Linked DNA regions of Homo sapiens: region 2 is linked to region 1. Evidence: fine-mapped expression QTL. Tissue or cell type: blood mononuclear cells. Region 1 holds a variant in brackets; the other region holds the start of a gene. All regions are shown on one strand. Distances are from middle to middle.

The links. PIP is the estimated chance that this variant, and not a neighbour inherited with it, causes the effect.
Region 2: it holds the start of MYO3B, and the variant in region 1 is fine-mapped to the expression of MYO3B in blood mononuclear cells (TOPMed, PIP 0.98).

What each region holds. Positions count from the first base shown.
Region 1 is chr2:170,357,774-170,368,670 of GRCh38, forward strand. The region is part of intron 8 of MYO3B (myosin IIIB); the gene reads left to right. Among named protein-coding and RNA genes, the nearest start is that of MYO3B-AS1, 12 kb to the left of the region's middle. RefSeq lists an enhancer at 5,126-5,420. The variant G/A (reference allele first, on the strand shown) is at 5,644.
Region 2 is chr2:170,171,662-170,182,558 of GRCh38, forward strand. It overlaps MYO3B (myosin IIIB), which reads left to right and starts at 6,486. Exons shown (of 35, transcript NM_138995.5): 1 at 6,486-6,628. The coding sequence starts at 6,627. RefSeq lists an enhancer at 8,668-8,897.

The DNA of each region.
Region 1 (10,897 bases):
CAATCCAGGGGAAATGAAAACATGTGTCCACATAAAAGCTTGTACAGAAATGTTCGTAGTAGCAATAATTCATAATAGCTTAAAAGTAGAAACAACCAGCTGGGCGCAGTGGCTCACGCCTGTAATCCCAGCACTTTGGGAGGCCAAGGTGGGTGGATCACCTGAGGTCGGGAGTTCGAGACCAGGCTGACCAACATGGAGAAACTCCGTCTCTACTAAAAATACAAAAGTAGCCAGGTGCGGTGGGGAGCGCCTGTAATCCCAGCTACTCCGGAGGCTGAGGCAGGAGAATCACTTGAACCTGGGAGGCAGAGGTTGCGGTGAGCCGAGATCGCACCATTGCACTCCAGCCTGGGCAACGAGAGTGAAACTCCTTCTCAAAAAAAAAAACAAAAAAACAAAAGTAGAAACAACCTAAGTGTCTATCAACTGATAGACGGATCAACAAAATGTGGTATGTCCATATAATGAAACATTATTTAACAATAAAAATGAATGAAATATTAATATATGCTGTGATATGAATGAACCTTGAAAACATGCAAAATGAAAGAAGCTAGTCACAAAAGACCATACATATTATATGAAATGTCCAGATTAGACAAATCTACAGGGACAGAAAGTAGATTAGTGGTTGCCTGGGACTGAGGAGGTTGAGGGAGTATAGGGTGTGAATGCTAATGGATACGGGGTTTCTTTTTGGGGTGATGAAAATGTTCTGAAATTGATTGTGGTAATGGTTGCACAACTGTGTGAATATATTAAAAATAATTGAATTGTACATTTTTAATGGATGAACTGTATAGTATGTGAACTATATCTCATTAAACCTATTATAAGAATTATTAGCAATAATCAGTTGAAAATTTTATTGAGTAGTTTTTGCTGATTTTCTTGCATTTAAAATTTTTACTTAATGCCAGCTATGCACATTATAGTTGCAACCACTCATTTTGAGCAGAATCTACAGACTTGTTTGGGATTGTGGGTCTCCAAGAATAGGGACGGCCTTCTCCGTAGTAGGCAAATTCCCTCTATATTACTTAATTTATAAATTTGAGCTACTAGGCAAAGGCAGTAGTTGTTCAGGAGCAAGTTCTAAGCCTGTGCACATAAAAGCTATCAGTTCTATTTTCGCTTCTCCTTGTCTTTGCATACCCTATCTCCTCTGCCCTTGTCATCTTATTCCACCTGGTAATGAAAATAAATGAGCGAGAGTAGTCAGAAAAGTAAAAGAATAACTAAGAGATGTAGCATCACTACAGGCAATGAAACAGAATGTTTCAAGAAACCAGGGTAATGATGGTCATTAGTGACCTCTTGAACAGAGAGGTTGAATACAATGAGAACTAAAAAGGGAACACAGAATCGGCAACTTAAAGGCCTTTAGGGTCCTTTGAGAGAGATTTTAGTTGGGTAGTGAAGATAAAAGATTTTTATGTTCACAAACATTTAGCTACAGGCCCATCTATTAAATTTAAGTTTGCCTAAGATTCCATTGGTGACCTCTTCTCTTTTCTTTCAACACTCTTGACTTGTCTTCAAGTTCCAGGGCTACAATCATCATCTTTCCCTTTCTATTTCATTAATTCAGACTGTATTCTTCCTAAATGAATTCACTCCTTCCCTCTAATCTACTCTCTAATGTGGTGCCACTTTATTTTCTAAAGCAAATATCTAATTGTGTTATATCCTTGTTCATGAACCTCAGTTTAATGTGGCTAAGAAAGCCCAAACTTACCAGCAAGACCTTCTGGGTTCTGAAAAGATGTTCCAGCCAGACTCTCACCCCATCTCTATTATAACTGCATTGTTCTGTTCTACTCATATCCCTAGATGAGCCTTGCATTTTATACCAATGAACTTCCTCAAAAGGCTACTGTACCCTCCGCTTGGAATGCCTCTTGCCTGCATTTTCTGTCAATACCCCTTTTGTTCTTTAAGACCCAAGGATCATCTCTCATGTGAAACTCTTGCTCCTAGTTAGAATTATTTACTTCGTCTGCGCTATTCTAGTGCTTATACTTTTCAGCCTTAAATTATTATTATTTATGTCCATGTCTATTCTAATACTTCTTTCTAAATCCCATGAAAGCAAATGTCTCATTCCAGGCATTGTTTTCCCTAGGCATTTGCTGTGGCACCATTCACAGTAAATACCTAGTAAGTTTTTGAATGAATCAATGAAATCAATCTCATCTGATTCTCTAAATCTTTCATATGTGTAAGTTTGGTATTACCCCAGAAGCTGATAAGTTTCTTGTGGATGAATATAATGTCTTCTGTTTGATTTGCACTCTCTTAGCCCCAACCCCAGTTCTGGTATAGTCCTGAGCATGTAATGATCATGCACTGTGGAACAGATTGTTCATTTCTGTTAGAGGATGGCTGGGTACTCTCTATTCCTTCTCCTTGTAGGGAGAAGAATGCATACAAATGAGAATTGTGGATTTAATTCAGGGAAGGGTGGCAAGTAGGATCATGGGAAGAAATACAATTCATGTGTCCCTGGGCATTTAAGCCTGGACTAAGAAGCAGACCATGACTGTTTGTCAAAATGGAAATTGATTTTCGAATCAAAGAAATGAGCCAGACATTAAAAAAATTACCCAAAGGCATGAACTTGAAAATGCCAAAGCTCTTTGCTTTTGCTGAATTGCCAGACCCCAGAAATTCCCTTCCCCTCAGAACTTTGAAAGTTCTGATCAGGGCATCTACTATCAAACAGAAATTTGTCCTCAGTGGTAGGAATCAACTGAGAGAAAGTAGCTAACTAATGAGCACAGTATTATTAAAATCTAACTGAGGGAGCCATTGCACATTAACATTTCCTTGTTGCTGTGGTTTGAATGTGTCTCCTCCAAAATTCAGGTGCTGGCTTTGTGATAGTATTAAGAGGTGGGTTCTTTAAGAGGTCGTTAGGTCATGAGAGCCTCTCCGTGGTGAATGGGATTAAGGATTAAGTACTGGATAAACAGGCTTGAAGGAGAGGCAGTTAGTCTCTTCTTGCCTTTTGGCCTTCCACTGTGTGAAGACACAGCATTCCTCTCCTCTGAAGGAGCCATCTTGGAAGTAGAGAGCAGCCCTCACCAGACAACTGAACCTGCTGGAGGCTTGATCTTGGAATTCTCAGCCGTCAGAACTGTGAGAAAGTACATTTCTGTTCTTTATAAATTACCCAGTCTTAGGTCATCTGATAGAGCAGTGCAAAATGGAGTAAGACACTTATGTAGCACTCATACTGCTAATTATCAATAGGTGTACCACAGCTATCTTCCTCCAATGGACTGACTGACTGTATACCCAGCAACTAGTACAGTGTCTGGCCCAGGGAGCTGACATTTATCAATTGTTCGCTATATACCAAATACTAGACATGAATTAACTCATTTATTCCCCACAATAACCTTTCTAACCATTTAAGGTGTGATCTCCCAGGGACCACACCTTCTCCAGCCCTTTGAACTAAAGGGTGGCATTTGAACATAGACTAACAATCTGATAAGCTAGTTGCTGGGGCTGTGTTTATCTGTGCCCTGACTGTGTCACATGGGTGGAGTTGCCTGGAGAAATATCTGGTTAATTGCAAGGTGCTTTTTATAAAAACTCAACCAAAGAAAAAAGAAAGCCAGGAGGAGGGAGAAGGTGATGACTTGGGGCCACCAGTTAACAATCCTTAAGACTGCCTTAATTCTCGGACACAAAATTGACATCTTCTTGGCTGCCACTGTGTCCAGCAGAGGGCAACCTTATCCCCATTCTTTGTCAAATGCCGTAGGACAGTTTGAAAGCGTAGCTTAAACATAAGAAGGAGGTGCCAAGAACAAGAATAAAACAGCCAACTCGGTCAGTATGCCTTCAGTGACTTTTTCTTGGAGATACCTCTCTTTACCTTGAATCTGTGCCCCATCTTGACCTGCTACTTGGCTCTGGCCTGGTTCACTTGGCCCTTCTAACTTCATGTCATTTGTTTAGCACTTTTACATCTCTCTCTCTTTTTCCTCCTCCCAGACTGATTCTGCCTTTTGTCTATAGTATAGTCTCCTTTCCTCTGTTCCTCCTCACTGTGGCTCTCCACTTGTCCCCAGACAAGCAGGGCTTGAGGATCTAGAATTTTTGTTACCACATCTCCTTCCCTAAGAACATAGTCAGTTAGTCTGGGCTTTTCAAACTATTTCATATTGACCAAGGGCTTAGAGATAGAGGGTAAAGAGGTTCCTGGTTGACAGGTTTCACTGAGGCTGCAACCCTGGGGCATTACAGGGTTACATATTGCAGCTCTCTGCCTTACTGGGGGTCTCTGATCCTGGGCCTTGTTTTTGCATAGGGACTTTCTCCAGCCACACTGGTGCACACGTCTTAACTCTAGAGGTAGATTCTGTCCCATTTGCTCAGAGATGTGATATTTTGGCTTCAAACCACCACCCTATATGTTTTCTTTTGTCACCTTCTTTACTTTCTTTGAGTCTTCTCTGGGTGAGAAAAGTAGATGTTCTTTATCCCCAAGTTTCCTGCCCAGTGTCAGGCTTCAGGAAATGCAATGTTCTTCCCTTTCCATTTCCGTCCTACCTTCACTTGAGCTTACTGTGGACCTTTGGTGCTGACAGCTTTGTCTAAAGATCAGGCTCACTTGTTTATCTTTCCAACCTTGCCCCAGGATCTCTGGCAAGATGGCAGCTGCCCTGTCGTCCAGTAGCCATGTGGTCTCTTGCTTTTTACACAGACTCTATTCCCGTTACTCATTTCAAAGGGAGACTCAGCTTCCTGTTCAAAAGCTCTCCATCCTACCTTCTTGGGGATTTTTGTCTTTTAGCAAATACTGACTATTCTCCTCTGATTGATAACCATAGACCTGCCTAACTGAGTAATGCACTCCCAGTTCTCATTTACCTGTTTCAGGGGAGGACCCCACTTCCCCACCCCAAATGTGAAGTTAGCATGCAATTTCAGTTCTCACCAGTGAGACTTTGCAACAGCATCAAATGTGATATTCAGACTTCAGGAAAACTGAAATGCAGTTAAATATTCCACCAAACAGGGGGGTGATGTTTCACAGAAATACCATACACAGCATCAAGTTTCTCATTCTGCCTTCTTTTGAGGCATTAGTCATTTTGAGAAAATGCCTGTTTGTCATAGTCTTGTCTTGCAGAATGGAAATTTTCTTCCAAGGCAGAATACTGTGTGCTCTGATATTTAACCTATAATTAGTGTATCCTCTGGAGGATTTTCTCCCCTTGATTTAGAGGCCTCTTTGTCAGTCAGCCTTCTGTTTGACGATGATAGCAACCACAGGGCAGCACAGTGAATCACACGGCAGGGAAATGCTTGCTCAGATCCAAAATGTTTAGATCTTCTGTAGCAATGGGAACACATAACAATTCAAGTAGCAGGCCTGCAAGAAAATAGCAGGAAGTATAAAAGACAGAATATTTATAAAGAAATGAGAAGAGTCATAAATCCTGAGTTTTGATCTAGTTTTGCCCCAATGTATGGAATACATTGCTCACCCTCATGCTTTTCTTACCCAGTTTACTAGTATTTTTAGTTTTTGCCTTTTCAGCTGCTCTATATCAAGTGTTTTATTCATTGGTAAACAACAGTCAGAGGCTCTTGACAAATAGCTCCCCCTTGCAGGCATCC[G/A]GTTTTTTGGTTATGAAATGGCAGTTTACAGGCACAGAGTAGCTGTGTCACGACAGCATTATTGTCTTGGAGCAGAGAGTGCACAGACACCACCAGCTTGAGAGCCCGACCTTGTTTCTTGCTAAGAAATGTCCCGTTTTTGCCTGTTTTTGGCAGAAGCCAGACTGGGAGATTGCTGCAAATGGCTGCAACAACCTGTGTTTAATGTGGTGACACTAATAGATTCTGAGAATTAATCTTCAGCCAAGAAAGCATGATGGAAGGTACTAGAATTTCAAATTAGATAGTGGATTGATTTCCTTCAAGGCTGAAATTTGCTTCCTTTATCTTCTGGTGGACTTTTCTATCATATTCAAAACCACCCATCATGGCCTTATTTCCAGAGTCTCTTGCATATATCTCATGGTATAAATAAATTGTTATTCTGTTGTTTTGTCTGTTAGCACAGAGAAAGCATATCTAAATCCTAATTTTTTAAAAAAGATTAAAAAATCCAGGAATGAATGAAAGAAAGAATTACTTATGATTTGGGGAAAAGTAGTGTATCTAAATCTAGTCCTTGCTACTTGTTTTCTAGAATAAAGGACTCTGGAAAGAACTGAGCTCAGGAAAATATCTCCCCAGGTTGAAACACTGTCTTTTGCAGAAACAATAGCCCTCCAGAGTGTCTGAGATGTGGCAATTATTAAGAGTTCTTACAGTGTCCCCTCAGTCCACTGAGTTGAGGACTCTGGTGTCCATTCTAAAATCATGCGACTAATTGCTTACAACAGAACTTCCAAGGATATCATTTGTGGGGCCCAAACAAACAAACAAAAAGGTCTCTGTGGCTAAGTAAGCTTGGAAACGTGGGCTCAAATAGAATTAAACTTTTTTTTAACCCTAGCTCTTGTAAGAACCTTTAATAGGCTTGTGTGCATTACAAAACTCCAAACTTACTTGGTTTAGAGAATCACCAATGTTTTCCAAACTCTTTTGACTAGGAAACTAGCTTCTTTTTTTGATGGAATGCTTTATGTGTCTAGTGCTTCCCCTAATTCACCTCATGTTGGCTGGCCCCCAATCCCATACAGAGTTTAACATTTTATGCATCCTTTTGTAAAAACTGCTCAGTCCCTGGCTGGGGGAAGATAGTCTTCTTTTGGAATTTGCAATTCCTGGTTTAATAAGCAATACCTGAAATGAATACGTTTCTTAGAACTCCTTTAGTTCTACTTGTTTGTTCTCCAAATCAGGTTAAAGGATTCTATCTTGCTTTATAAAAGGACATGGAGGCTATCAGGAGTTTTAGGAATCCCAGCTGTCAGTTTCATCTTCATCCACTAAATCTCTGCTGACCAGGGATAGAAATGACAAGCCGACAAACTTAAACAGTAAGAATTCTGGGCACCAAACTACAAAGTCTTAAGCAACAACAATTATACCTTAGTTAAAGTTGGTAAAGGGACTAAAGGCAGTAACTGTTGTTAGGCATTCAAAAGAAGCAGCTTAGGAGGTGAAGGTCAGTGTTCTGGTGGCCTCCTGACTTACTGGCTTTGCAGCTTGTCTAGTCTGCTTCTTGCATTGCCGGTCTGGCTCCCCAGTATGACTTCTGCCTTTACTCCCCCAGTTTAGTTCAATTTAGTTCCAAAACTTCCCCCAAGACTTACCTAGCTCAATTCTTACCAGCTCCAGGAAGTCTTCCCTGACTACAGTTCTTCCCTCTGGCCGCGAAGTATTGTTTCGTACGTTGTACCTTTGTCATTTTTAACAACACGGAACAAAGCAGGAAGGGTCCTCCTGTGGGAGTTGAGGAATTGACCTCATCATTGCCAGGACTTGATCCCATTTCCTCACCTCTTAAAAGAGGGGCTAGAATCGAAAATCTCAGTCCCTGTGGCTCTGAAACCCTATGCTTTTGTGCTATTATTTCTTATCCTAAAGATAGAAGCAAACATATGGCTTTTGCTGTTTCTTGTGCTTCTCTTGTCCTTCTGTCTTTCCAATTAGATTGTAGATCCTTGAGGAAAAGGGTCATAGCTTTTAATTAATTTATGTATTGTGGCTAGTTCTAGTGCTGAGTAATAAATGTTTGCTGAGTAAACGATATGATGCTATGCCCTCATATCCAGTAACGCAGGACTTTCTATCTGCTCTTAAGGCATAACTTTCCTCTATTTATCTGTAAAATAATAGTTCCATTTCAGACTGGCTCTTTGCTCCCCATGAGAAAAAAATATAGAGAGGAGTATTTTAGAATAAAGCTATACCTTCAAGTTCTTCATGCCCTTTCCCTAAAAATCCTCCAATGCAGTTGGAGAGTCACAACTCTGCTTAGCCTTCTTCCTCTTTACACTCAGGTTCAGTTGTGCTGATCCTGTGGTATGATGGTATATGGTAGACACACCCGACAGCAATAATTTAACTTGAGCATACCCTGAGGATGATCCTGTATGGCAGTTGCACCTGAATATGTGTTTGGAGTTCAGAGCGTGCCCAACCCAGAGATAAATTCCTTGTCTGTGAGGAACATCTGAGCTCTGGGCCCTTCCTGTGGAACATCAGCATACAGGGGAGTGAGGCTCTTTGTTTTGCGTTAAATGAAGGTTGCCAGGTGGAGGTTGTTAGGAGGAGGGAGTGAAGTGAAAATGCTATATAAACTGCATGCTTTTTGCATGCAGTGGTGGTTCTTCTGTCCAGCACATGGCTACTGCATCATCCCTGTATGTAAGTTTCTCCTAATAAAACCCTATATCTCATTTGTTGGCTCTGGGTCTCTCCTTCAGCCTCTTGAACTTGGTGCCATCCCTACTGAAGTTAATAGGGGTTTATCACGCAGACATTCAACCCACTTCAGTCTTTCTTTCTTACTTGGAGAACTAAGAAAGCACTTTTTTTTGTTTGTTTTTTGTTTTTGTTTTTTTGAGACAGGGTCTCACTCTGTTGCCAGACTGGAGTGTAGTGGTGGGATCATAGCTCACTGCAATCTCAAACTCCTGGGCTCAAGTGATCCTCCTGCCTCAGCCTCCCAAGTAGCTGGGACTACAGGTGTGCTCTGCTAATTTTTAAATTATTTTTAGTAGAGATGAGGTCTCACTATGTTGCTCAGGCTTCTCTTGAACTCCTGGGCTCAAGAAATCCTCCTATCTGGGCTCCCAAAGTGTTGGGATTATGGGCATGAGCCACCACGCCTGGCCAACAGATCTTCTTGATCATTGCTTCCAGAAAGTAGAATGCCTACTATCTTCATTTTTTGGATCTTCAAGAAATAACAGATTTACTCGTTAGTTTCTTCTTTGTCTAATTCTCTGACTTCATTATTCATTCATTTCTTTTATTCCTCCATAATCTAGAGAGGGACCCTCTCTAACATATCAAATGATCTTGCGACCGTGTTGGAAGCCTTGCTTCTCCAGTGGATGCTAACATTGTGAAACAAGCTATACCACCTTTAATTGTGGTCCCTAGACTCCAGTGGAGGCATCTTTTCATAAGGCTGGATGGAGTATGGGTTTCCTAGTCTTTCTCAATCCCTGTTCAAGGAGCTTTACTTACTGAAGTACCCAAAGGACCTTGTTTTCAGGCCTCACCTGGAACACTGCCCTGAGGTACCTATATTAAGGAGGAAGGTAGAGAGGCAGCTCCAGCTCACTTTCCCCTTCACATGCTATGAATTTTTTGTGAATTGCCTCCTTCCACCTTCAGTCTCTGCCCCTGTGTTTACTAATTTGAAGTGTTGCCACTAGTCAACAGGCTATTGAGGGACCCCTGGTCCTTTTGTTCATTCTTTCTTTTCAATGAGCATTTCCTGGTAGTCAGATGACGCTTCAACAATTAACACAGGAAGAAAGCCAAAACAAAAATGTGGGGAGGGTGACGGATGGGTGGGATGAATATTATGTGAGGAAACAAGAAATTTCTCTCCCCATGTTTGGGAAATACTTCAATACTGATATGCCTATTTGGTGATGAGAAACAGACATAATGTGACTTATTAAGAAATCAGTAAGCAGGCTTAGCTTCAGATCCAGCAGTTCCTGGACTCCCATCCTACCCGTTCCCTCTGAGGTTCCTGGGGGTGTGCACAACTACCGGGTGCATCTTCAGTAGGAACTCTCAGAGGACATAGGGGCTATGTTTATCTTAGGAGTTTTTATACACTATTCCTAATGCTAGGAGGACTGGGCCATACACCTATGTTACTGACAGTATAACTACCTCTTGGGTTCCCTCTTTTTTCAGGAAACATGGTTATTAGCATTTTTGCATAATATCTAAGCATATTAACTTTGATAGTTACATATAGAGATGAATATACAAGGAATCAAGGGAAGATTGCTGATGTAAAGACATGAACACAGTCTTCTTAAAGCATATGCACTGATTTTTTATTTTTCACAGAAAAATAATAGATTATACAAAAAGCCCTGAACCTATAAAAGTCAAATGATGTATTTCTTCCCATGGCAAGGCAGAGGTGGTATTTATAGTCCTGCAAGCAGCTGAATGGAGATAATTTAGGTTCCGTTGGCTTTTCTGGCTGAAAGCTCCAGTTCCAATAGATAGGGAATCCCCTGAATCAATTATAAAATGGAGTAACTGGGAGATTTACCGAATATCTTTTCAGGACTAGAAGGTAAGGGATATGAAAGTGTTTTGAACTGAAAACTGCAGAAACCAAAGCTTTTTTGTAAATTTAACTTTTGAGGATTGTTTCAAGAACTCTGCTTAAGTGTTTTGAAAAGATGTTCAAGGTGAGGCTGAAGTTTTTTAACATTTGTCAGTGAATTTCATTAAAAATACGTTGTATGTTAGATGCTGCTGGCATTCCACTGTTGAGAAAACTAAAGACGTTTATTTCATGGATTGGGCAGAATGGCATCCATTTATCCTAAGCCTCCAATGTGGGCTTAAGGACAAGTGGCTTAAAAGGGTAGATGTTAAAATTTCTTCCTCTCGCCAAGGGCAGGTACGCAGAATAGAAATGTGATGGCAGTTGGAGGGATATTCGTCAGATTCAATTTCACTAGAAATTTCCCTGTATCCAAATCATCTTGAATAACACAGAAGGTGCAGCAAAATGTACTGAATCATTGCTTTGAAAAGGATTTTGAATCTAAAACAGAAAGTAGTTATGCCGGTATGATTTTAACCAATTAACCACAGAAGAGTTTAAATGCAACCCAATTTTTATCATTTCGAATGGACTTTTTGTTCCCTGTTTGTATAATTCTATTCCAATTCATCTGAATTATATTGTACTCACTTCCTGTTC
Region 2 (10,897 bases), 190 kb before region 1:
AAAACCTACTAAAAAATGATGTAATATTTTTAAAAATACCAAATATCAAACAATAGGTAGTCAACACTGGTTAAAAAAAAATGCACACCCACCCATAGACACTCTTGCACCTACCCACATGCATTTTTTTTTTAAGTCTGAAGGAAAGACAACAAAATGTTGAAAGTGATTAGTTTTTGGGTAGGATTAGGGGTGATTTTATTTGATTTGTATCCTGTATTTTCCAACATCTCACCTACAAACATGTACTACTTTATAATCACAGAAAAAGACACAACACATTCTTGAATTTAAAAAGAATGTAAAAATTAAAATAGTAGCCAATATTTTCTGAAGAGTGTTAATTTTGACAGAAAAAAAAATTCCTGAATTGTTTATTATACTTGTATGGTCTCTAAGTTATCCATAGTTTGCCAAGCCTGTTGGCTTACGGTAGAACCAAACCCAGACATTACTTCCCCCTCATGGCAGCTACCCAAATTTCAGGACTAGTGTCTAAGAATGTGAAAACAAACATCTGAGTTCTCTTCCAAATCAACTTTACACTCTGACTGAATTTTTTTTTTTTTTTTTTTGAGACAGGGTCTCCCTGTCATCCAGGCTGGAGTGCAGTGGTGAGATCATAGCTCACTACAGCCTTCTGGGTTCAAGAGATTCTCCCGCTTTAGCCTCCTGAGTATCTGGGACTACAAGCATATGCCACCACATGAGCTAATTTTTAAATTTGTAGAGATTGGCAGGGTAGTTCTCCCTATGTTGCTTAGGCTGGTCTTGAACTCCTGACATTAAGCAATCCTCCTCTCTTGGCCTCCCAAGGTACTGGGATTACAGGCATAAGCCACCATGCCTGGCTTTTGGATTGAATTTCTGGAGAGTCAAATAGTTGTCTAAACATAGCCAGGGCCTTCTGGAACAGTCTCTGGTGACACATGCGTAAATGCTATGGGCAGGTGTGTATGTTACCACCTATGTGGAGAGCTGGTTTCTCCTATATTTTTCTCAGCACTTGGACAAGAATTTTCTAGAGGACTGGACTTTTCCATTTGTGGGTAGAAGTAAACGCTGGAGGGTAACGAGCTATAGTAGAAGATGACCAGAACAGGAGTCTGATAATGGGGTTCTAGACCTGGCAAAATGAAGGCAGGAGCGCCAGACCTTCTTGCATTCCAGGATTTCTTTAAGAATTGGATGAGATAACACTTGCAAAAGTGTCATGAAAGCTATAAAATGTTAACCCTGCAAAGAGTGTTATTACTTTTTAATAATAAGCCAGCCTGGATTTTTCATAATCTGAGAGTTAAGAACCCTACTGATTGGACAATACTACTGTGGCCAATTCTTGTGAAGAGGAGCAGCCTCTTTTGCTTTGTGGAGTCATTTTTTTTCTCAGTCATAATCATAGATGGCAGGACCAGGATTTGTGTCCACCTATCACTGGCCTTACCCTGCATGATCCTCCTTGCTCCCTAACCTCTGGCCATGCCTCAGATCTCTTGGTTCCAGGAATATTTGCTTGCCGCGGTGCTATCTCCACTTTGGGCCTTCACACGGTGCTTCCCTCTGCCGAAAACATTCCCCCGTCCCCTGTCCCTTCAGCTCACTTCCTCAGCTGGCTTTCTGAAGCAGTGTTTCTCAAAGGGTGGTCCAGCATCACCTGGGAACTTGTTAGAGATGCATATTCTGTGGCTCTTCTCCACCACCAGGGTCAGAAACTCTGGATGTGGAGTCCAGCAGTCTGTTTTACCAAGCCCTCCAGAAGATTCTGATGAATACAAAAGTTCGAGAACCACCCCCCTAGAGCAATGATTCACAAACTTTTTTGCCTCTTTGGGAAGCTTAAAAACTGCTGGTGCTCAGAGCCATACTCCAGAATTTCCAGGGAGAGGTGGGACCAGGAATCCATATTTGTAAATCTCTTCAGGTGATTCCAATGTGCAACCAAGTTGGAGAATCACCTCAGAGGCCTGATTTCCTTTGTCATGGGCTCCTATAGCACCTTGCACTTCCCTTCTGTAACACTCATGCTCTGAGCCCCATAGGGATAAGGAGGCTACTTTATGTCACCAGGACCTGCCACACCATAGGCACCATGGAATGTTTTTGTTTGTTTTTTGTAGAAACAGTATCTCACTCTGTTGTCCAGGCTGGAGTGCAGTGGCAAGATCATAGCTCACTGCATGCTCGAACTCCTGGACTCAAGCCATCCTTCCACTTCAGCCTCCCAAGTCGCTGGGACTACAGTTGCACACCATCATGCCTGGATAATTTTTTTAATCTTTTAGTTTTGTAGAGATGGGTTCTCACTATATTGCCCAGGCTGGTCTTGAACTCCTGGGCTCAAGCAATCCTCCCACCTTGGCCTCCCAAAGCCACTGGATGTTGACAGAATGAATCACACTGTGCTTTGATTACAGGGTATGTTGGAAGGATTGATTTGAAAATACTAATACCAAAAAGATTTCCACATGACATTTTCCAAAATATGATTAGGAAAGTAGTATGGAAGATCATAGTAGTTTCACCGTATTCAGGATGAAGGAAGATTGAGCTTTATGGAGAGAGAAGTATGGAAGTGCAGGAACAATCCCCAGGGATCTCTGTGTGTACCGTGTGTGTGTGTGTGTGTGTGTGTGTGTGTGTGATAAAGCAGATCACACACAGGTGATCTCTGTGTGTGCCCAGTGTGTGTGTGTGATAAAGCAGGCGAACTCCAGATCCACAAATTTTTAAAATCTGAAACTGGACACATTGTTTGCCCTGTTTTTCAGGGCAGACTTAATACCCAGAGATTCTCCTTTTACCATTAGGATTTATTTGTTTTTTAAGTATTAGCTGATGACTTTGGTTAAGTTCTTATTTGACTTAGAATGTCATTTGGAATTGAGGGATAAAACCCATGAAATGAAAATGTGGATATTAAAATGGAGCAGAAAATGGATTATTTGGTGCTGCTAAAAATTCATCTGTTTAGAGTAAAACTTTTTTTTTTTTTTTTTTTTTGAGACGGAGTCCTGCTCTGTCACCCAGGTTGGAGTGCAGTGGGCACCATCTCAGCTCACTGCAACCTCTACCTTCTGTGTTCAAGCGATTCTCCTGCCTCTGCCTCCTGAGTAGCTGGGCTTACAGGCGCCCGCCACCACGCCCAGCTAATTTTTGTATTTTTAGTAGAGATGGGGTTTCACCATATTGGTCAGGCTGGTCTCCAACTCCTGACCTTAGGCGATTCACTCACCTGGGCCTCCCAAAGTGCTGGGATTACAGGCATGAGCCACCGCGTCTGGCCTGTTTAGAGTATAACTTAGTAGGATGTTCTTTGGAAAAATTATCCAGAAGACACTCAAAAGTTAGGTATTTTCTTTTTTTCCTTCTTTGCAATTTGTCAGCCATCAAGTGTAGTGTCTGGCACTCCATAAATGGATGAAGAAAACTAAGAGGTTTACTTGTGGTAATTCATTTTACAGTGTTATTAAATGCTTTGCTAGTTTGAAATGTTTCTGCTATAATAAATAATTTAAGACTTAAAGTCCTTTCTTTTCAATGTAGTTCCTTCTTAAGGTGTTTTTACTTGAAGGGTGTGCGTGTTTGCCCGTGCACACATGTGGGCATGTATGCTTATGAATGAAAATGATCATGAAATTATTGCTCTTTTAGTTCTTTGGAAAAATAAATCTTATGCATATATTTCTTAGGTATTTTAATTGCCTTTGTTATGTAAAGAAATCCCATTCATTCATCCATCCAGTAGGTCATTTCTTTCAACATTATATAGCCACATGCCAGGCCCTATGTTAGGCATGGGAGATATAATGGTGGACCTGATAGGCATGGTTCCTGTCCTCCTGTTGCTGTGTAGTGGTTTTAGCACTTGCGAAAGTCATCTATGAGATTCTTTTGCTTCCGGGTTCTTACATTTTTATTGTTGAGGTGGGGTCTCACTTTGTCCCCCAGGTGAGAGTGCAGTGGTGTGATCATAGCTCACTGCAGACTTGAACTCCAGGGCCCAAATGATCCTCCCACCTCAGCCTCCCAAGTAGCTGGGACTACAGGCATGTGCCAACATGCCCTGCTAATTTATTTATTTTTTGTAGAGACAGAGTTTTGCTATGGTGCCCAGGCTGGTCACTTCTGCGTTCCTGAGTCATTCCTGACTTGATGTGTGTGCGTATATTTTATTCTTGACATTAATTAGCATTTTTCTGCTACTCTTGGATGAACTTTCTAAACACGCTACCTTCCAACCTTATCAGTACATTCAAACCAAGTGGACATCCCAGAATAAGGTGGTGATTCTATAGCAACACAAATTAAATGTCCATTCCCCAAAATGTCTCATTGGAGAGAACAAATAATACACCACATAATTAATAGATTTAAAATCTTCATGGTACTTTAGCTTCATTAAAGATAGCAGCTCAAGCAAATTTAAAATTAATAGATTCTATCTAGTTCGCCTATTGTTATTTTTGAAGTCTGTTACAGAAGAGAAATTATGCAAATGGCTGTCAGGCTATTGCTGCTGCACTCACACTAGGAATGCATTATAATTTCTTTCTTAGAGGAAACACTTATTTGGAGCAGACCAGGCCCTCGGTTCGTTCGCAAGAGGTTGTCCCTTCCTTCAGATGGTCCATTTTGAGCTAATAAGTACTATCAGGGTTGAGGTGGAGAGGCGGGGCTGTGGGGAAGGAAATTAGGATAAATTACTGGGGCCCAGTGGCTGAAAGGGCCTCGGGCAAATCCCTGGTGAAGACAGTCTAGCCAGTCCTCCTCTGCTGGGGCATCTGGTATTTTTTTTCCCTTGGGCCTGGGCAGGCTGTCGGTCACCTTCCAGACTGTATAGCCTTTAACTCCTTGTTGCAATGGAATCCTGCTGGCCTTCTGATTTGCCTTTTCCTGCAAAAATCTGCCAAGACACTCTTTCTCAAAGAAAATTTCCTATGTTACTCTACTGTTTAAAAGCCTGGTGTGGCACCCTCTCACCTTTGAGGAAAAATTCCAGCCCCCCAGGCTGCCTGAAAGCTCTGCCTTCAACTGACTCTTGTATACAAATTCAACTTCATCTCTTGATTATTTTTATAATTCTTCTACTGGAACCAGGCTGATCTTTTTAACAACCTGTTAATTTTAATAACCTGTTCATTTATTTATTAATTTATTCTGCAAGCAGATGGGATGATAAGTTCAGTCCAACTGTAGGAATCCATGATTCTACTAGCTATAATATGAGCAATTATTATGTGCAAATACTGTAGGAAATATAGGAAGATAGAACACATTATCCCCATTCTTAAGATTCTTATGACAGTAAATGGAAACACAAAGGCCATTATTGACTAGCGGGAGTAAGATCGCTGTCCTTTAAATCACCTTCTTCATATTTGCATTCTCTGTGTGCTGTTTCTTGGCTCTGGGTTTCTCTCCTGCCTCATCTACACTAATCCTTTTCACTTCTTCATTCAAAACTGTACCTAGATTTATCTGCTCCAGGAAGCATTCCCACTCAAGTCTTGGTCCTGGGTTGAACTGACTCCTCCTCAGAATTGATGGATATAGCTTATCCAGTGTTATTGCACAGTCTTCAACTATTTCACATGGGCCTATGTGTCATGTTAGCTGGCCAGAAAAGAAGCTTTCTGGGGACCCTACCCTCCTGTTTCTCACTTCCCCTCTCTCCCTTTTTTTTTTTTTTTTTTTTTTTTGAGATGGAGTCTTACTTTGTTGCCCAGCCTGGAGTGCAGTGGCAGAATCTCTACTCACTGCAACCTCCGTTTCCCAGGTTCAAACAATTCTCCTGCCTCAGCATCCCTGGTAGCTGGGATTACAGGCGCACACCACCATACCCTGCTAATTTTTGTATTTTTAGTAGAGATGGGGTTTCCCCATGTTGGCCAGGCTGGTCTCGAACTCCTGACCTCAGGTGATCCACGAGCCTTGGCCTCCCAAAGTACTGGGATTACAGGCGTGATCCACCATGCCCAGCACCACCCCCCCACCCCCTGCCTCCTCTTAACCTACTGTTCTGTATATAGCCCAGGGCATGCTACTGAATGAATAGTCACTGTTGAATAGTCACTGTTTCATTGCTTGGTAATTCAGATCAGAAACTCATGGTGTTTCCCCTGGGTTTATCTGCAGTTCAGAAAAGTGACCCTGACTACATGCTTTGATTATGCCCTTTGCTCACAAAAAGATGATTAGTTTTGATTGTGCAGCATTTGGAATGAAGGAATTTAATCTGGAATGAAGGAACTTTAAAAGGTTGGGGGAATATCACATTGGAACTGTTAAATGACATGCAAACAGGATCTGTGAGAATGGTTTTGATTCTGCTCTGTGTCCTGGTAGGAGACACTAAATAGATCAGGCTCACTACCAATTAGCATCATCTTAATCTTGCCTAATAGTGAAGCAAAGTCACCAAGGATTTGGTGGATTTATCAGCTCCTCCCACAATAGTCATCTGAGGCTAACACCTCTTGGAACCTAGATCGAAAGTCCTTTGGTAATGATGTGTCATACATTCTAGTCATCAAAGACACCATTTTCTGGGCCTGAAGTGTTCTGCTGGTTTTTGGAGGAATGAGAATCCAATCTCTCATAAGCCGGATTCAGAAAATAGGTCATCGATGTGAGTTGCAGTTATTTTCCTTCCAGCTTTCTTCTGTGCTTGCTTTAGATTGTTTTTCTGCAAAGGGCAGATGCAGCTGCCCTGGCTGGTGGGCAGTGGAGGGGGATGACAGCCACTCTGGCTTTGGGCCTCTGTCTGACATCACCCAGATTCCTGGGTCCTCTCAGTTAGCATTTGCCTTTTGTCTGGGTGGTTAAATTTCTCTTGAAGGAGTAGGATAAACACCCTCTTGAGTATTGCTTTTTACACAGACACACACCACACACACACACACACACACACACACATACACACAGCATAGTTCATAGTCACTTGATTTGCCACCTGCAGTTTATAATAGAATGGACCTGTGGGATTATAAACCACTTTATTTCTGCACAGAATTTCTCAGCTTGAGGCCAAATTGAAGGGCATTAGTCATCAGTAATTTGCAGATGTTTTTAATGTTTTTCACCCAAGAGAGGTTTCAGGCAGCTAAAGCTAAGATAAATTTCCTCATGCTTTGGTGGGGAAATGAAAAATCTGATCATTTAGTTAATCATTTGTAAGAGCTGTGGGTATGTATTGTTCCTTAGTGACTGCAATATCATGACAGATTTGTTAATTTGGTAACATGACAATGTAAACAATAGTAGATAAATTCCATTATGCCATGATTCTTTTCTTCCTCTCAGTAATTTTGTATATTCAAGGTTTAAAATCCATAGAACATTAGAGATGGAACTTAGAGATCAACCTAGAGATCATTGGATTCCTCTACCAAGCTCTGTCAAATGCCAGTCCTGAGTGTCTCCCCTGGAGCATCAGGATAAATAGCTAATGCATGGGGGGCTTAATAGGTGCAGCCAACCCACCATAGCACATGTTTATCTGTGTAACAAACCTGCACGTCCTGCACATGTAACCTGGAACTTAAAATAAAATAAAATTTAAAGAAAGGAAAAGAGTACATAATCAGTGGAACCATAAAGGTCAGTTCTAGTGGGAAAATTAGGAAAGGCCTCCTAGAAGAGAAGACATTTGAGCTATACTTGAACAGGCCCTATCTAGCAGCATCCAGATAGGTGGTTTGTGAAGAAGCCAGTTCCTACTCTTACGTCTTTACCATGGTTATGGTTTGAATGTCCCCTCCAAAGATCATGTTGAAATTTAATTGCCATTGTGAGAAGAAATGGGACCTTTAAGAGGTGACTAGGTCATGAGGGCTCTGCCCTTATGAATGGATTAATGCTGTTATTGTGGGAGACGGCTCCTAGTAAAAGGATAGGTTCAGTCTCCTTTTTCTCTCTCTTGAGCTCTCACTCTCTTGCCCTGTCTCACTATGTGAGACCTTCCACCATGTTATGATGCAGCAAGAAGGCCCTCACCAGATGTGGCCCCTTGATCTTGGACTTCCCAGCCTCCAGAACCATGAGCCAAATAAACTTCTATTGTTTATAAATGATGCAGTCTGTGGTATTCTGTTACAGCAGCAGAAAATGGACTAACACAACTATTATGCACTTGCTTATGTATTGGTTTGGAATTATTCTCTAATTTACTCACGCTTGTATGGTATGTGTTTCCTTATTCTGTGTATCTCTGGGTGTTATATTTAATATTTGTACAGATTTCCTCTGACATTTCACAGTTCAGGTTTCCGATTTCTTCTTTCTAAAATCTATTCTCTAGATTTGAAAGCATTCTATGATTTGTGATTCATATATACCATACTATAACATCTAGAAAAAATATTCTGAATAGCATACTGAGCAATGGAAATCTTCATCATGAATTTTCTAATGAGTATAAAATGTTGCTGGGCAAGTTTCTATTTAAATCATGCTCGCTAGGCTTGACTAACTGCAGACATTCACAGGGTGCATGCTGCAGAGTGCTTTACTTTCAACAAGGTAAGGCTGTACCTCCGTTAGGGACTAATTCAGGGTATTCAACAAGGGATCAGACTAGACCAATTTGGGGTTGTTAAGGAACTAAAACTAGCTCACGAGAAACTCAAATCAGCTCATGAAAAGAGGGGCTGCTTGGAAGAATGCAGTAGGAAATTTCATGGGTTACAAGGACAGACAGCAAAGCTTAGCAGGCCTCAGAGGGCCAAGATGTAGAATTCACAGTGAACCCACTCACTAATCCTCTTTGTCTCACTCTCTCAAGCATGGTCCTTTCAGTTTCTTATTTCTCTGTTTTCTTTTTCTTCTCAGGATGAGCCTCTGTTTCATATGGTTTCTGCTATCCTCTGACTTCAGCACACATTTGGGTCATAATAGTCTCCTCTGTAGAGATCTCTTATATGTTTTTTTAAAAAATATTTATTTTAAAAAGTAGAATAACATATGCACTAGCAAAAAACATGACTAAAAATGTGTAATAATTTTAAAAAGCATATAAATTTCTCTCTTTTCCAAACTCTCTGATTTTTACCACCTCTCCCTAAAGTTTAAGAGTTTCCTGTGTAGCCTTCTGGAAAAATGTATATAAGGATATACACATACATAGAGACATACACACAAATATACACATAAAATGACTAGAAATGCAAATATTCTTTGTATTTACACAAAAATTGTCCTCTCTATACACTATTCAACACTTTTAAAACAAATCTTAATTGTATATTTGGCATTCTTTCCATATTAATTGGCAGAAAATTTACCTTTTTTCTTTTTGGTGGTTACCTGTGGCTACATTGTATTTAATTTTATGTAACTATTATGATTTATTAGATAATCTCTCCATGATGATGGGCCTCTAGGTTGTATCTGGTTTTCTACTGAAAATAATACTATAGTGAACAATCTTGTATGTCTATCTACTTCAAGTTTAATAGAGTTTTAGCTCTTACATCTGTTTAATGATTAAAGTTAATTTTTATATGTGGTGTAAGGATAAAGATTCTTTTTTTCTTTTTGCATATTGCTCTACAATTGTTTTAGCACTGTTGAAAAGTTTTCCTTTCTAGTATGTAGAAATATAATTGAATTTAAAATATTGACCTTGTTTGTATCCTGTAATTCTGATAAACTCACTAATTAGTTCTAGTAATGTTTTTATAAATTCCATCAGTTTTTTAAATAGATAATCATGTAATCTTCAAATTAAGCCCATTTTACTTCTTCCCTTCTAATCTGGATTTTTAAATTTTCTTTTTCTTGACTTATTATTCTGGCTTCACCACAGTATTCAATATAAATGATGAGAGCAGACATCCTTGGCTTCTGATCTTAAGGTGAAAGCATTCGGTTTTTCACCATTAAGTGTGGTGTTAACTTCAGGTTTTTCCTAGATTCCTGTATCAGATGAAGAAGTTCCTTTCACTTTCTAGTCTGTTGAGAGATTTTTGTTGTTGTTTTTAAATTTTGAATAAATGTTGAATTTTTTGTGAATGCTTTTTCTGCATCGATCGAGATGATGGTTTTTCTTTTATGTTCTGTTAATATAAATCTAAGTGTGCTTTTTTTGATTATATATGTAAAGTAAATGCCTACCAGTAGAATTACAGAGACAAAGGGAATGGGCATTTGGTAGATTTTGACTAATAATTCCTCACAAAGATTGTTTACGCTTTCGCTCATGTTGTCTCAGAGTGCTTATTTCTCTTAACACTATTATCAAACTTCTAAAAATCTTGACAGTGTGATAGGAGACAAATGGTATCTCATTAGTTTGATTTGCCGTTTAAAATTTACTAGTGAGATTTAGCATCTTTTATACATTTAAATTTTTTGAGTCTTTTTCTTTTTTATTGTATATACTCTTGATAGAAAATTAGCTCCTGATACAAACCTTCTTTTCTATTTATTTTTTGGAAAAATGTTAGTACTTACAACAATTCTTTTGGTTGTAGAGACCTTTTTACTTGTATGCAATTATGTTTATCAATTTTTTTCTTAGGGCTTGTGAGTTTTCTATTCTACTTGAAAATATTTCTTGCCTACACCAAGACTATAATGTATTTAGCTATATTTTTTTAAAAAATTTTGAGCCACCATACTCTATTTTGGAGAAAGGAATGAGGTAGCAATCTGGCTTAACTTTTTTTCTGAACAGCCAGCAAGTTAAGCCAGCATAATTTATTGAACAGTATTATTTAGTCCATCTTTTGCCTATTGATTTGTAATGTGATTTTTATCATAAACCCTATTTCTTTGTGTATTTGAGTCTACTTTTGGTTTCTAGTCTAACGATCTGACTACTTATTTCTACCCCTGTGGCATAATGTTTTAATTACTCTAGCAGTATAACATGTTTTAGTGTCTGGTCAAATTATGT